Linked DNA regions of Homo sapiens: regions 1, 3 and 4 are each reported to be linked to region 2. The links are microRNA targets in miRTarBase. Many come from high-throughput screens and were not tested one by one. Region 2 holds a microRNA gene; each other region holds the end of a gene's coding sequence.

Region 1 (3,132 bases), not on the chromosome of region 2:
AGTGAACTTTTCCAGTAAATGAAGCAAGCACTGAATAAAAACCTCCTGAACTGGGAACAAAGATCTACAGGCAAGCAAGATGCCCACACAACAGGCTTATTTTCTGTGAAGGAACCAACTGATCTCCCCCACCCTTGGATTAGAGTTCCTGCTCTACCTTACCCACAGATAACACATGTTGTTTCTACTTGTAAATGTAAAGTCTTTAAAATAAACTATTACAGATACTTACGTTGTGGTGTTTCTTTCCTCATGGACCATGATGAAAATCAGTCTTAAACAAGGACCCCTTAAAAATCAAGTACAGTATCTGTTCTTAAACTTGGGTACACAATAGAATTATCTAGGAAGTTTAAAAAGACACTAATGCCCAGCACTTTGGGAGGCCGAGGCGGACGGATCATGAGGTCAGGAGACCGAGAACATCCTGGCTACTATGGTGAAACCCCATCTCTACTAAAAATACAAAAAACTAGCTGGGCGTGGTGGCGGGCACCTGTAGTCCCAGCTACTCAGAAGATTGAGGCAGGAGAATGGCATGAACCCGAGAGGCGGAGCTTGCAGCGAGCCGAGATCGCACCACTGCATTCCAGCCTGGGTGAAAGTGTGAGACTCTGTCTCAAAAAAAAAAAACAAAAACAAAACAAAAAAACCACTAATGCCTGGTTGCCACTCCAGGGATTCTGGCTTAAATGGCCGGATACAGCCTGGGCACTGAGATTGTTAAGAAGACCCACAGATGATTCTAGTCTGCGAACAGGTTAGTGAAGAAAAGTAAGTTCTGAAGACCAAACCTTCTTATCCCATAGCTGTAAAGAATAAAACAAATACCAGCTGAGCCAAAACTCCAACTGAGCACAAGTCATATCCATTCTTTTACCATCTTTGTTGTACTCTAATTATAATCTTGAATATTAATAGTATTCTTTTCTGGCCTCCAACTGGAGTTAAAGAGAATGTTCTTGGATGGTCTTTCTAGATTTTGAGCCCAGAAAAGCCAAAGAAATATCTATTCTTAAGGATCTGAAACAAAAGGGTAGGCAGGAATTAACTTTTAAAGTCTAGCTCCCATTATCACTTTAACTTTCTCGCCTTCACTTCCTTTCCTATTCTCCCCTCACGCATTACAGCTGAACCTCACTAGTTACCTTCCTGTTTCTCAAACGTGTCAGACACAGGTCCAGCCTGTTTTTGTTCTTGCTGCTGTCTCTAAAATGCAAATATCCCAAAGCACATGACTTGTCCCCTCATCTGCTTCAAATGCCAACTCAAGACTGTCCTACCTTCTTGCTTCACAATAACATGACTCCATCTTACATATATTTTACCTGTCTGTTCACTGCTGAATTCCCAAGTGCTCTTCCCTTATCCTCAACTATTACAGGCCTGGCCCCCAAAGCTTCACATTCCCTGCCTTGGAAAGGTTTCTGAAGTCCAGAGAAATAGGCTTTCTCTTTCCTTCTGTGATTCCACTGTTATGTTTAGACAAGCCCAATTTAAGCATCCAAGCCCACCAGCTTGGATCCTACCACTCACACAAGCTTCAGCTTTTTACTCAAGGGTACATGAGTAGTTTGATATCACTATGTTTAAAGTCTAGAACACTACTGCCACGGGATCCTTGGGGTGTTGCTTCCCCAGCTGGAATCCTCTGTGGCTGGCAGCCCAAAGTCCAGAGGGGGCCTAGGCGGCAGGGCGCTGGTGTCAGCACCACTCAGAGCTCACGTACACCTGGCCAGGTCCTCACAGCACCCGGGCTTGGCCTCACCTTTGCTCCAGAGCGAGTGCCAGGAGCAGGAAGAGGCCAAGCAGTTGTTGGGGGGGGGGTGTGGGGGGGGTATTTCCCCTCGGCCCCCTAGAGCACAAGGATGCCCGGGTCCGCAGCCACGGCTGGACAGCTGTAGCTACGCTTGGCTCCTGCCTATCACGGCTCCCCCTCAACACCCCTCAGGCCACCACTGCCATCCGCTGCCATCACTATGACCGCAATATCCCATTAATAGGGTTAATATCTTGAAGCAAGTGTGTCATGTCTTAAGCCACGTTTTAAGATGCCAGTTGTCCACAGGGCAGCAGAGCAGTTTTTCCATAAGGAACTAAGATGAACCTTTTTAGTCAGCAAAAAGAAAAATGCTTTAAGTAAAAACTGATTATACCCAACATCCATTGATCTTTATTTGATTTGACAAAATCTGCATTTTTAAAAGACAGGTAACAAAATCTGAGGTTATACTGAATCTGACAAATTGAGTTCTATAGTATCTAGAATATCATATAAGAAATATCAACTGAGGGAAAAGAGAAGTACCACATGCAGATGCTCCTGGCAAGGGGGGAACTGTATCTGCAGGTGAGGTCCAGAGTGTGCAGTGCATAAGAAAATCCTACAGAAAATGCCGTTAACTTACTTGGATGAAATGTTTTTCCTTTGAGGGGGAGGAAGAGGTGGTAAAGAGGGGCAGGAATTCAAAGGCATATGCAGAATGGCTTCTCCATTTCAAAATGGTAATAAAAATATTTAAATCATGGCACTAGGGCACCTTTGAGGAAAAGAACATCTTAACCAGAGTAGGCTCATTGCATAATTCTTTAGTAATATGTACAATTTTCAAGTAATTAAGCAGACTTAAAGGATAATTTTGTTTTAACAGCAGCTATCTATTTTTCTTCTCCCCCTCTGGGGCTTGATCTGTTTCAGCATCACAGGGACACTTTTCCACACATTTTCTAGGGAACCAACCCCTTATTCTTGAAACACCTGAGGGAGAAAATGAAATTGAGGTGAAATAGTCTGATGGATGACAGTGACATTACTGAAAGCAGTAAGTCCTATTACTTCAAATTAATAAGCTTGTAGTTAGACTTTTATTCCCCACTTTGCTATCTATTATAAGCACAGTTTGAAGGGGAAAAAAATAAGATTTTTAAATGTTCATAACAAGCTAGGAACAGGTATTTCCCAAATTTGATGATCCCGAATAGGGACTAATGTGGTTAAAGACAGCTCCTAACTAGAGTCAGGGGGAACTCGGTATGGGTGTTTACTTATATGTGTATGATCAGGAAAGGTGTTTTTGGCACACCATCACACTGTCTTTTCCAGGGAACTATCTTCTTGTAGTCTTTGTAAAT
Region 2 (3,132 bases):
TTAAATACTTGTATCATGAAATTACATTCTTATTAACAATAAGACATACTGTGTAAGAAAATAGCTCATGTGTGAAATGTGTCTGAAATGCATTTTTTCCTTACAACTATCAAAACATCCACTCACACTAAAATGAAACCACTCCCAACCCCCCCTGAAAAAATGTTAAGGGAAGACGGGGTGGGCTGGGGGAGGAGCAAGGAAGGAAAAGATTTAGCTATACTAATTACAGCACAGTGATTAACAATGGTTCAAGACAGAACCAACAAGAGTTGGTCAAAAAGATGCCTTCAATACATGGCTACAATTAAAAACCAAACTCAGCCGCTTTTGGTTCATTGCAGTGAGACCAAAAAAATTATCTCTCACAGATTCATATAAATACTAGACTCCAGCTCTTATATCATTTTTTTTTAAGTTTTTCTGTTTGTTTCTGCAAGGCCTAGCTATCTTATTACAATTTATATTTGCTCTGCAACAACTACAAGAGGTAGGCATAAAGCATGAAAAAGTTTCTCAGTTAGTACCTCGCCATGTGTTGTTCACTGCACAAAACCATTCACTTTGGACATGAATAGTCATTCCTTCTATTATCTTCTAAACTCTAAAGCAAAGCTGCTGCCACCCGTAAATGTTCTAAAAGAGTGTACTCACAAGTAAGAAACTTTCTCTACTGAAGGATACTGTCACAGAGTTTGTTGCAGAGCATCTATATATATATTTATTTATTTATTTTAAAAAAATAAACAACAATGATGAACGAACCCAGGTTCCTAGAACCAATTCTCTTGATTCTCTACTTCCACAAAATAAAGTGTATCATTTGGCCAAGACTACAGATGTGTTTTTTTTTTTTTTCACAGATGCAAGTGCCATGCAAAAATAAATTAAAGAACAGATACCAAAACATACATGTGATAAAACTACAGAAGGTAGATTTTTAAAAGCATTTATATAAACATAATTTATAATACTTCTCTTTTTTCCTTTATATACAGTCACAAAGCTGTAGTTATACATCTAGGATTTCCTCTGCTGTACCCCCACAGCGTAATCTGTAGCGACCAGTTCTCCAGCTTATAGTTGGGTCCCATAATGCAGACAAAAAAATGTATATTGTCATGGATTCGCGGATGAACCAGGCGACTGCATAATCAAGTTTTGAAAAACACAGTGTGCCACCCTAGGAATGGAAAAAAAAATTTTTTAATTTCACTCACTGTCAAACTAAAGACAAGGTTAAAAAATTAAATTCTTGGATTTCACTTTTCTAAGTATACTATGTAAAATCAAGTCTGCTTCCTTATGTAATTTAACTGCCATGTTATACCGTTCAAGAAAATGCTAATTGTTAATGAAGCATTAAAATAACTGCTATCTTAATGTCTTATTAGTTTCAATACTCACTGATTTAATTAACTTCATGTTTTTGGAAACTTAATAAAAGCGATTATATAACCAATAGAAAGTTGCAAATCGACTTAAGTTTTGCATCAACATTCCACTAGAGAAAGTCATGTTCAAACCCGAGACTAACCTACAATGGGAAGCTGAAGAATGGCTCAGATACATTTCCTTCAACTTTTTCTAAATTGAAATAGTTCTAGTTCCACCAAGGGACTGCCAACCTTTTCATGCCTATCCACATACCTGGACACCCCTGAGTTGAATGTAGTCAAATATAAACCATGCCAGGCAATGACACATGAAAAATACCATAATATCCCATCTGAACACATGGTGGGCTGCCCATCCAATAATTAAACTGGCAACAAAGCATTCTGAAATTGGCTCACAAATTATTGTAGCAGGAAGCATGTTAATTCGTAGTTTGGTCCACCTGGAAAAACAAAAAGGATTTTCTTTAAAACAATATCCTGGCTACAAGACAAATCCTTTTTTTTTTCCCTCAAATAATCAATTTTTTTACCCTGTGATAGAAAGACCATTCTCTTTAAACTTTTTTTGTTTTGTTTTTTTTTTTTTACTTGAGACGGGGTTCTGCTCTGTCACCCAGGCTGGAGTGCAGTGGCACTCACTGTAGCTTCAATCTCCCAGGCTCAAGCGATCTTCCCACCTCATCCCACCAAGTAGCTGGGACCACAGGTGTACACGCCACCACACCTGGCTAATTTTTGCATTTTTTGTAGAGACAGGGTTTCACCATTTTGCCCAGGCTGGTCTCAAACTCCTGGGCTCAAGCAGTCCTCTCGCCTTGGCCTCCCAAAGCGCTGGGATTACAGGTGTGAGCCACCACACACAACCTAAAAATTTTTTTTAATGACTCTCTTTTCTATTTTTGTCTAGGATGTCAAAGAAAAATGTCTTTAAATTCATTTGTATGGCCTACGCTCTGATGAATACAGATAATAAAATTTAATCAGCACAGAAAGTTAGAAAATAAAGATCAGCATATTAAAAAATTCAGTCTCAACATTTCTCTAATGAGTGCTTTCAGTGTTATACAGCAAATAAAATACATTTAGACATTAAATTTATCTTAAACACAGACGTTAAACTCTATTTTCTGCAACTAAACAAAAATCTTCAACCTTTAGGTACATTCATTTAACTACATTAAACCTGTAAAAATTACCACCCCCCTCCCCACTTTCCTTTTAACGAAGTATAAAAAGAAAACAGTTGATTTACCTGATCATTCTGGATTGAAACTGAGAAATTGAATATGAGCCAGAGTTTTGCATTGCAACTTGAGTGGACATTGCAAACCTCCAACCTCTGAAAATTAAGATAATTAGAAAATAAGTTATGATGATGAACACATGCAAGCGTAACTGGTTATGCATTCAGTAATCATTATAAAGACCAGGCAACTGCCGGTATTCAGGGTGAGCCCAGCTTTCATGATTAGCACATGACTTAAGGTCTACCATACGTATGGATGTTTTAGCAATTATGCTGGCCCGTGACAGCACCATCTAAGAACTAGAAGAAACTGTACCCACCTTACTTTACAATTTAAGAAACTTAAAATGCAGTCATTTTGAAAAAAAATGGAGAGGGCTCCATATTTAATAGATTAGTCTCTGATGACTACTAACCAAACAACAAGACATGTAAACAGAAAGTGGCATTATGGATCTCATGGGAGACACTAGGAAACCATGAACC
Region 3 (3,132 bases), not on the chromosome of region 2:
TAAAATCAGCCGGGTGTGGTGACACACGCCTGTGGTCGCAGCTACTACTCAGGAGACTGAGGCGAGGGGATTGCTGGAGTATGGGAGGTCAAGGGTGCAGTGAGCTGAGATCACGCTACTGCACTCCAGCCTGAGGGACAGAGCAAGACCTTGTCTAAAGTGTGGCAATGGCAAGAGCGTAAGGACAAACAGAAACAGACCCACACAGGTAGGTCAGTTGATTTCTGACAAAGGCGCCAAATTAGGAGAAAAAAGCCTATGCAGCAAATAATCTGAAAGTTAAGGGAGAAATGGATCCTGACTGCAACCCACACTGGAAACGTACACTCCTGAGTAGGGACTGGATACACACGCGGCACACACCCACACAACAGGCCGCCACGCGGCAATCAGGAGTCTGCCGCTGATCCACGCAAAAGCCTGGGTGAATCTCAGATGCTGAGCGAATGTAAGCAGATACACGCAGACATACACAGACGCACGCAAAGACACAGACTGCCCAGAGCCATGCACGTGGAACCCATGGCAGGCGGGAGGTAGGGAGCTGCGGTGGTAGGAGTCAGAATGGGTACCCCTGTGGGACTGGCTCTGCGGAGTGGAGGGCATCACCTACATCCTTCGTGAGTGCGCACCATGACCAGCCACACCCATGGAACTAACACTCGGTATCTGGGTTTTTTGTGTAACTGCCTCCCCTCAACACCATGGTCTCCCACATACAAAAGAGGCCATTATACAGTAAGACACGCTACTCCGCAATTAGACACCACAAAACGCCAGCCAGGCTGTCCATAATTAAAAATACCGAGCACCAAGTCTCAGCAATCCACTAGTGTTCTCCTTCCACCCAGCTGGGAGAAAGAAACACAGTCCAACCACTTTGGAATCATCTCTATACTTGGACAACACGCTTCGTAAGATCCATTAGGTGCTCCTAGAGTTGGCCCCCACCCCCACCCCCACACGAGTGTTCACCACAGCTATTTCCAAGTGAGTGTTATTACCCCAGAAAGGAAGCAACTCAAATATCCACCCACAATAAAGTGCATTAAAATCAGAGCACAGGACAGTCATGCAATGGAATACTATACAGCAATGAAAAGGAACACACTTCTGCTAGATGACAGGGCTGAGTCTCACCAACACACTGAGTACCTTAAGGCTCTCAGGATAATGGGAAAAAAAAGAACCAGAATCCACCCCCCGCCCCACCAGCCACACACACACAAGTCCACAAAGGAACAGGCACCCACATGCTGTACCCTGGGGCCCTTCCAACCCTGATGCGCCAACTCCCGACATGCTGCCTCTAGCCTTGACCTTTCTCAGAAATGATAGCTTAGCGGATGTTTGGCAGATCTCAACAGTCAAGCCAAGATCCAGCTGCAGTCAAAACACAATACGCCTGGTGGAGCCTCTTCCAGGTTCAAACACGGGAACCACGCTCGGAGCTGGACCCGGACCCGAGCCTCTTCCAGGCTCAGACACGGGAACCACGCCCAGAGCCGGACCCGAGCCTCTTCCAGGCTCAGACACGGGAAGGGAACCACGCCCAGAGCCGGACCCGAGCCTCTTCCAGGCTCAGACACGGGAAGGGAACCACGCTCGGAGCCGGACCCGAGCCTCTTCCAGGCTCAGACACGGGAAGGGAACCACGCTCGGAGCCGGACCCGAGCCTCTTCCAGGCTCAGACACGGGAAGGGAACCACGCTCGGAGCCGGACCCGAGCCTCTTCCAGGCTCAGACACGGGAAGGGAACCACGCTCGGAGCCGGACCCGAGCCTCTTCCAGGCTCAGACACGGGAAGGGAACCACGCCTGGAGCCAGACCCGAGCCTCTTCCAGGCTCAGACACAGGAACATTCTCGGAGCCGGACCTGAGCAACCGCCAGTCCATCAGCTATGGTCAGAGGAAGGCCTCCGTGGCTGTCTCTCCCCCATGAGATGGGGCATTTACACAGCACACTTAGGGACACGGAGGCCCTGCAGGTTTGGTGAGGTCTCCCGAGGTCCCTGAGCTGCAGAGGTGAGAGTTGAAAGACGCTGCCCCCAGGCCACAGTCTCTGACTGTCCACAGAACCACACGCTCCACATCTTCCCCTCAAACTCAACTCAAGCGCTCTTGGCTTTAAATCAGGCCGGGCCGTCTCACGGGAAAAGGAGGTTGGCTGCAAAGACCCACAGGGCCCAGAGGGGAAGCTGGCTATGACGCGATCCCTTCAAGAGCACTGGCTCCGGCCCCAGCCACCAGGACACTTAGTGACCAGCCAACAAGCGGGTGGTTTAAATACTGCACTCTATTTTTTAAGGACTCTGTGCATGGTATTTCCGGTGGCAGATGTGTAAGATTTTTTATGTAAATCGTGTTGTTTTAGCAGAGGACTATCAGACCTGACAGCAGCTGGACATCGAGGTCCTCACTGGGGTGGTGACTGCCACGCTGATGCTGAGTGGAAGCCAAGCCCCTTCAGTCAGAGCTGGGCCGATCTCAGACCCAAATGCTACCACCACCAAGCCCTGTGTCGCGACGGCAGCGGCTGCAGTCACCAGAAACAATCCTTCCTGCCTCGACACCCGTGCCAGCCCCAGCCACCCTGACGGCGGGCTGTCCACGGAAATGCCACGGCCAAGAGCCCAGGTCCTTCACGCTGGCCTCTTCCCTGCCGGGCTGGGCTCCCCAATGCCTTCAGAGTTCGTTGTGCCGAGCTCTGGAGATCCTGCCGGACAGGTCCTGCAGATGCTTCTTCACCTGTGGACAGAAACGTCTCATCAGCTGGGGACAGCGCGCCTCGAGGCCAGCTCTGTGAGCTCAGCCTCATGTCAGGAGACGCGCGATCCAAAAGGAAAAGGCGCAAGCCCTGCACATCTGACTTTCCAATTCCACACCCATCCAGAAATGCTCAAATCACAAAAGCAGCTCAGTACTAACTAGAAAATCCCACCAAAGAACGCTAAGAGCCACCAGCCAGGAGCAGTTCATGCTGAAGTGGAAAGCTCAGGGTCTCTGTGATAGGCCCATGGTGTTATTTATTTACTTACTGAAAGGGTCTCGCTCTGTCACCCAGGCTGGAGTGCAGTGGCATGATCTCAGCTCACTGCAACCTCTGCCTCCCAGGCTCAAGTGATCCTCCCA
Region 4 (3,000 bases), not on the chromosome of region 2:
GTTCTGCAAGAGGCTATCTAAAGTTTCTTCAATTATACACCATTTCCTTTTCAAAAGATAGCCATATGTTTGAATGTAATTGGCATGATATATAAATTTTATTTGATCTATTAAACCACTAAAAACTTGGTACATCTTCCTAAAAGCTTTCATACATATAATAGCTTTTAACTGAGTTCATGGACAAGAATCATGTATGGGTTTGTGAGTAAATGCATTTACTGGGCACATAATGGATTCTTGTAAATGAGTGCTTCATTCTTCATCTCAATCTTTCTCTCCTTTTCTTTTTTTTTCTTTTCTAGGACAGAAGGGTATAGAAAAGTCCCCTACCATTATTATGAACAAGGAAGAGATGAGTGTGATGAATATTTTCTTCATGAACATGCCCCATATGGGGGTCATAGGTTTATCACTGAAAAGAAAGTGTTTGCTAAATGGGCCAAGAAGCACAGGATAATATTTACACATCCAAACTGGACATTGTCTTGATAATGGTTTTCCTGATCTTGCCGCATCACTTAATGTGATCCCCATACTGCAACTGTGATGCTGATGATGCTAATGGAGATGATGGTAATGATAAAGACAACAACAATGATTATCAAGTTCCTGTACACTCTCAGATGTGGATGGTGACTCTGCTAGTAATTTAAACTTGGCATTTCATGGAGGATGGTTGTGCTCATGATGTTCTTTCTGGAGGTTCAACACTACGTACCGCACTTTATAATTTAACTGGAATTGAGATGAAGGCCAGTGACATGACAACTGTGACCTAAGAAATGGGAAGATTATCTTTCAAGATAGCTGCCTAGAATTGTTCAACAGTGAGTAACTTCCAGAAGCCAAAAGAGTTTGGCTTCATGAGGCAAGGTGATTGACTCAATGGCTTGTTGAATCTCAGCAGTTCCGCCATCTTGAAGAATGATTGATTGTCAAACACTGACCCAAGAACTGCTATCAGGGTGCAAGTATCTTACTACTTAGCCTAAGGATGGGAAAATATCTCTTCCTAATATACCATCTTTCTACAGTATTTCCTACAGCTAAAGCCTCAGGCCATTGCCTAATTAACAATGAAGATTTCATGGACATCCTACACTTCAGGATTACTTGACTATCTCAAACACATAAATCAAAATGGGCCAAGTAGCAAATCTTGATGAATTTCCACTCTTACCATCCATTCTTACTACCAACAGTATAACTGAACATGTGATTAGAATGATCTATATTAATGTTTAGTTATTTTTGGTTGAGTGCTAAATATTTCAGAAGGCTACTTAACATGTAAGATACCAACTTCAACACTGTAATAACATATACTGTGAAAACATTCCTAAAAAGTAACCAAAGGGTTTGCTAACTCTGCTTCAACATCCAACAACACAAAACTATATGATTTTTAAAATCATGAAATAGAGACAGCAAAGCATATTTTTACATCAATTTGTATCCTATCATACTTCATAATATATATTTGTATATTCAAATTTCTATTTTATAGGCCCAAGGTGTGTTTCTCCAAACATTACATTCTCATTGCCAAGTGCCAGCTGTTACACATGGAGAGGAAATGATTCCTTATATTAAACCTGACCAGAGCTTTTTGCCTTCTAGGGATTTATTTTTCCCATAGTGTATCAGTTGTTATGCCACAATAACAACAATAATAATGTTCTTAATGTCCAAAGTGCTTTGTCATTTAGAGTCCTTTAACATCTGTTATACCATGTGATGCCCTTGAACACCCCATTGGGCTATTGTCTGTGTATTCTGCTCTCTTTAGCAGATGATCTGTAATTTGGTCATTGTTCTGTTATATTCCAGATTGCTCTACTTGCTAATATTTGTATAGAATAGAATTTATGTAAACTAGTAACCAGTTGATCTCTGTGCCAAATACATTATATCAGGATTACACAAAAAGTATCACAAAGGATGGTCTTGGCCATATGCTAGGGCCCCTGTGAAAATAAGTAGTTTTGAGAAGTTTTTCTATATACGTATATATACACGTGTGGTTCTATTTAGGTGGGGAAAAAATGAAAAAGCAGGGACAACAGGAGGAAATGAAGGCAGAGAAATATAGTTTCCTTTCCTAGGATTGAGACAATTCTATTTTTCATATACTCGTTGCTCATTAAATAGTAAAGGGTTGATTTGCTGCAAGAGTAGCTGAGAATTCAAAAACATCCTTGCAGAATGATTCAAAAGACAAAAGCCAGGCTCAACTTATAGAATGTTTTGGAAACTGGAAGTAATGATACATTTCACTTCAGAAGCACTTGTAGGTCTTTACTAGTGCTAAGTATTATGGTGAGCTATCATTAAAGTGTGCCATCTTGGATAAAGGCCTTTTGCCTACTCTCTTCTGCAATTTTGACACCTCAATATTCACACCCATAAACATTACTAAGCCCCAGTTCTATCGTTGGAAGGAGTTGTTATTCTTTTGTTGTTCCCTTATGCAATTTTTAATTCTATGAATGTTAAGTTTTTTTGAGCTAATGATAGATAGAAATGCCCACTCAAAGAAAAATAAACAGAGACAAATGTTAAAATTGCCATACAGACTGTTTTTCCCCCTGTTGTTTCACTTTAAAATAAAAAGAAATCCTTGATTAATCAGAATGGCTTGGGACATGAACTTAATTTATTTAGTTTTCTAATAAATGAAGGGCCAACTCTTATTTGTTCTAGCCCCTACTGATGAGAAACATTTGAAAACTTGCTTGCTCTCCTGCCTCGTTGTAGCTTTCTCTGATGAAGACTTCTGCAGTATATTGTATCCCTCACTCTATAGCAGAAGGTGTGTGTGGAATATGTAGACTCCAGTGTTTTCTTAGGAGGGGTGGGAAAGGGCTTTCTTTCCTCTCCTCTCCTCTCGTCTCCTCTTTCTTTCCTTTCTTTTTGCAACTAAACTGCTACTCTACACTTTTTATTGTTGTTTTCTTTGTCTTTTTCTTTCTACAAACAGGAAACAAAAAAAAAAAA

The links. The annotated mature microRNA hsa-miR-4668-3p reads GAAAAUCCUUUUUGUUUUUCCAG and lies in region 2 at 1,841-1,863, opposite strand. An mRNA with a match to its seed (bases 2 to 7 or 8) in the 3' UTR can be bound and repressed. Matches are read on the target gene's strand: a 7mer-m8 pairs with bases 2 to 8, a 7mer-A1 pairs with bases 2 to 7 and ends in A, and an 8mer does both.
Region 1: the mRNA of ZDHHC6 is a reported target of hsa-miR-4668-3p. Seed matches in the 3' UTR shown: 7mer-m8 at 2,379-2,385.
Region 3: the mRNA of LRPAP1 is a reported target of hsa-miR-4668-3p. Seed matches in the 3' UTR shown: 7mer-A1 at 1,050-1,056 and 7mer-A1 at 1-7.
Region 4: the mRNA of ST6GALNAC3 is a reported target of hsa-miR-4668-3p. The part of its 3' UTR that is shown has no 7-base or 8-base seed match.

Annotation. Positions count from the first base shown.
Region 1 is chr10:112,428,150-112,431,281 of GRCh38, forward strand. ZDHHC6 (zDHHC palmitoyltransferase 6) reads right to left here. Exons shown (of 11, transcript NM_022494.3): 11 at 2,151-2,758. The coding sequence ends at 2,655. ACSL5 (acyl-CoA synthetase long chain family member 5) reads left to right here. Exons shown (of 21, transcript NM_203379.2): 21 at 1-227. Among named protein-coding and RNA genes, the nearest start is that of ZDHHC6, 17 kb to the right of the region's middle.
Region 2 is chr9:111,930,878-111,934,009 of GRCh38, reverse strand. MIR4668 (microRNA 4668) reads right to left here and starts at 1,910; the gene lies at 1,841-1,910. UGCG (UDP-glucose ceramide glucosyltransferase) reads right to left here. Exons shown (of 9, transcript NM_003358.3): 7 at 2,653-2,739; 8 at 1,651-1,840; 9 at 1-1,183. The coding sequence ends at 1,013.
Region 3 is chr4:3,510,289-3,513,420 of GRCh38, forward strand. LRPAP1 (LDL receptor related protein associated protein 1) reads right to left here. Exons shown (of 8, transcript NM_002337.4): 8 at 1-2,748. The coding sequence ends at 2,686. Among named protein-coding and RNA genes, the nearest start is that of LRPAP1, 21 kb to the right of the region's middle.
Region 4 is chr1:76,628,315-76,631,314 of GRCh38, forward strand. ST6GALNAC3 (ST6 N-acetylgalactosaminide alpha-2,6-sialyltransferase 3) reads left to right here. Exons shown (of 5, transcript NM_152996.4): 5 at 306-3,000. The coding sequence ends at 492. Among named protein-coding and RNA genes, the nearest start is that of LINC02567, 150 kb to the right of the region's middle.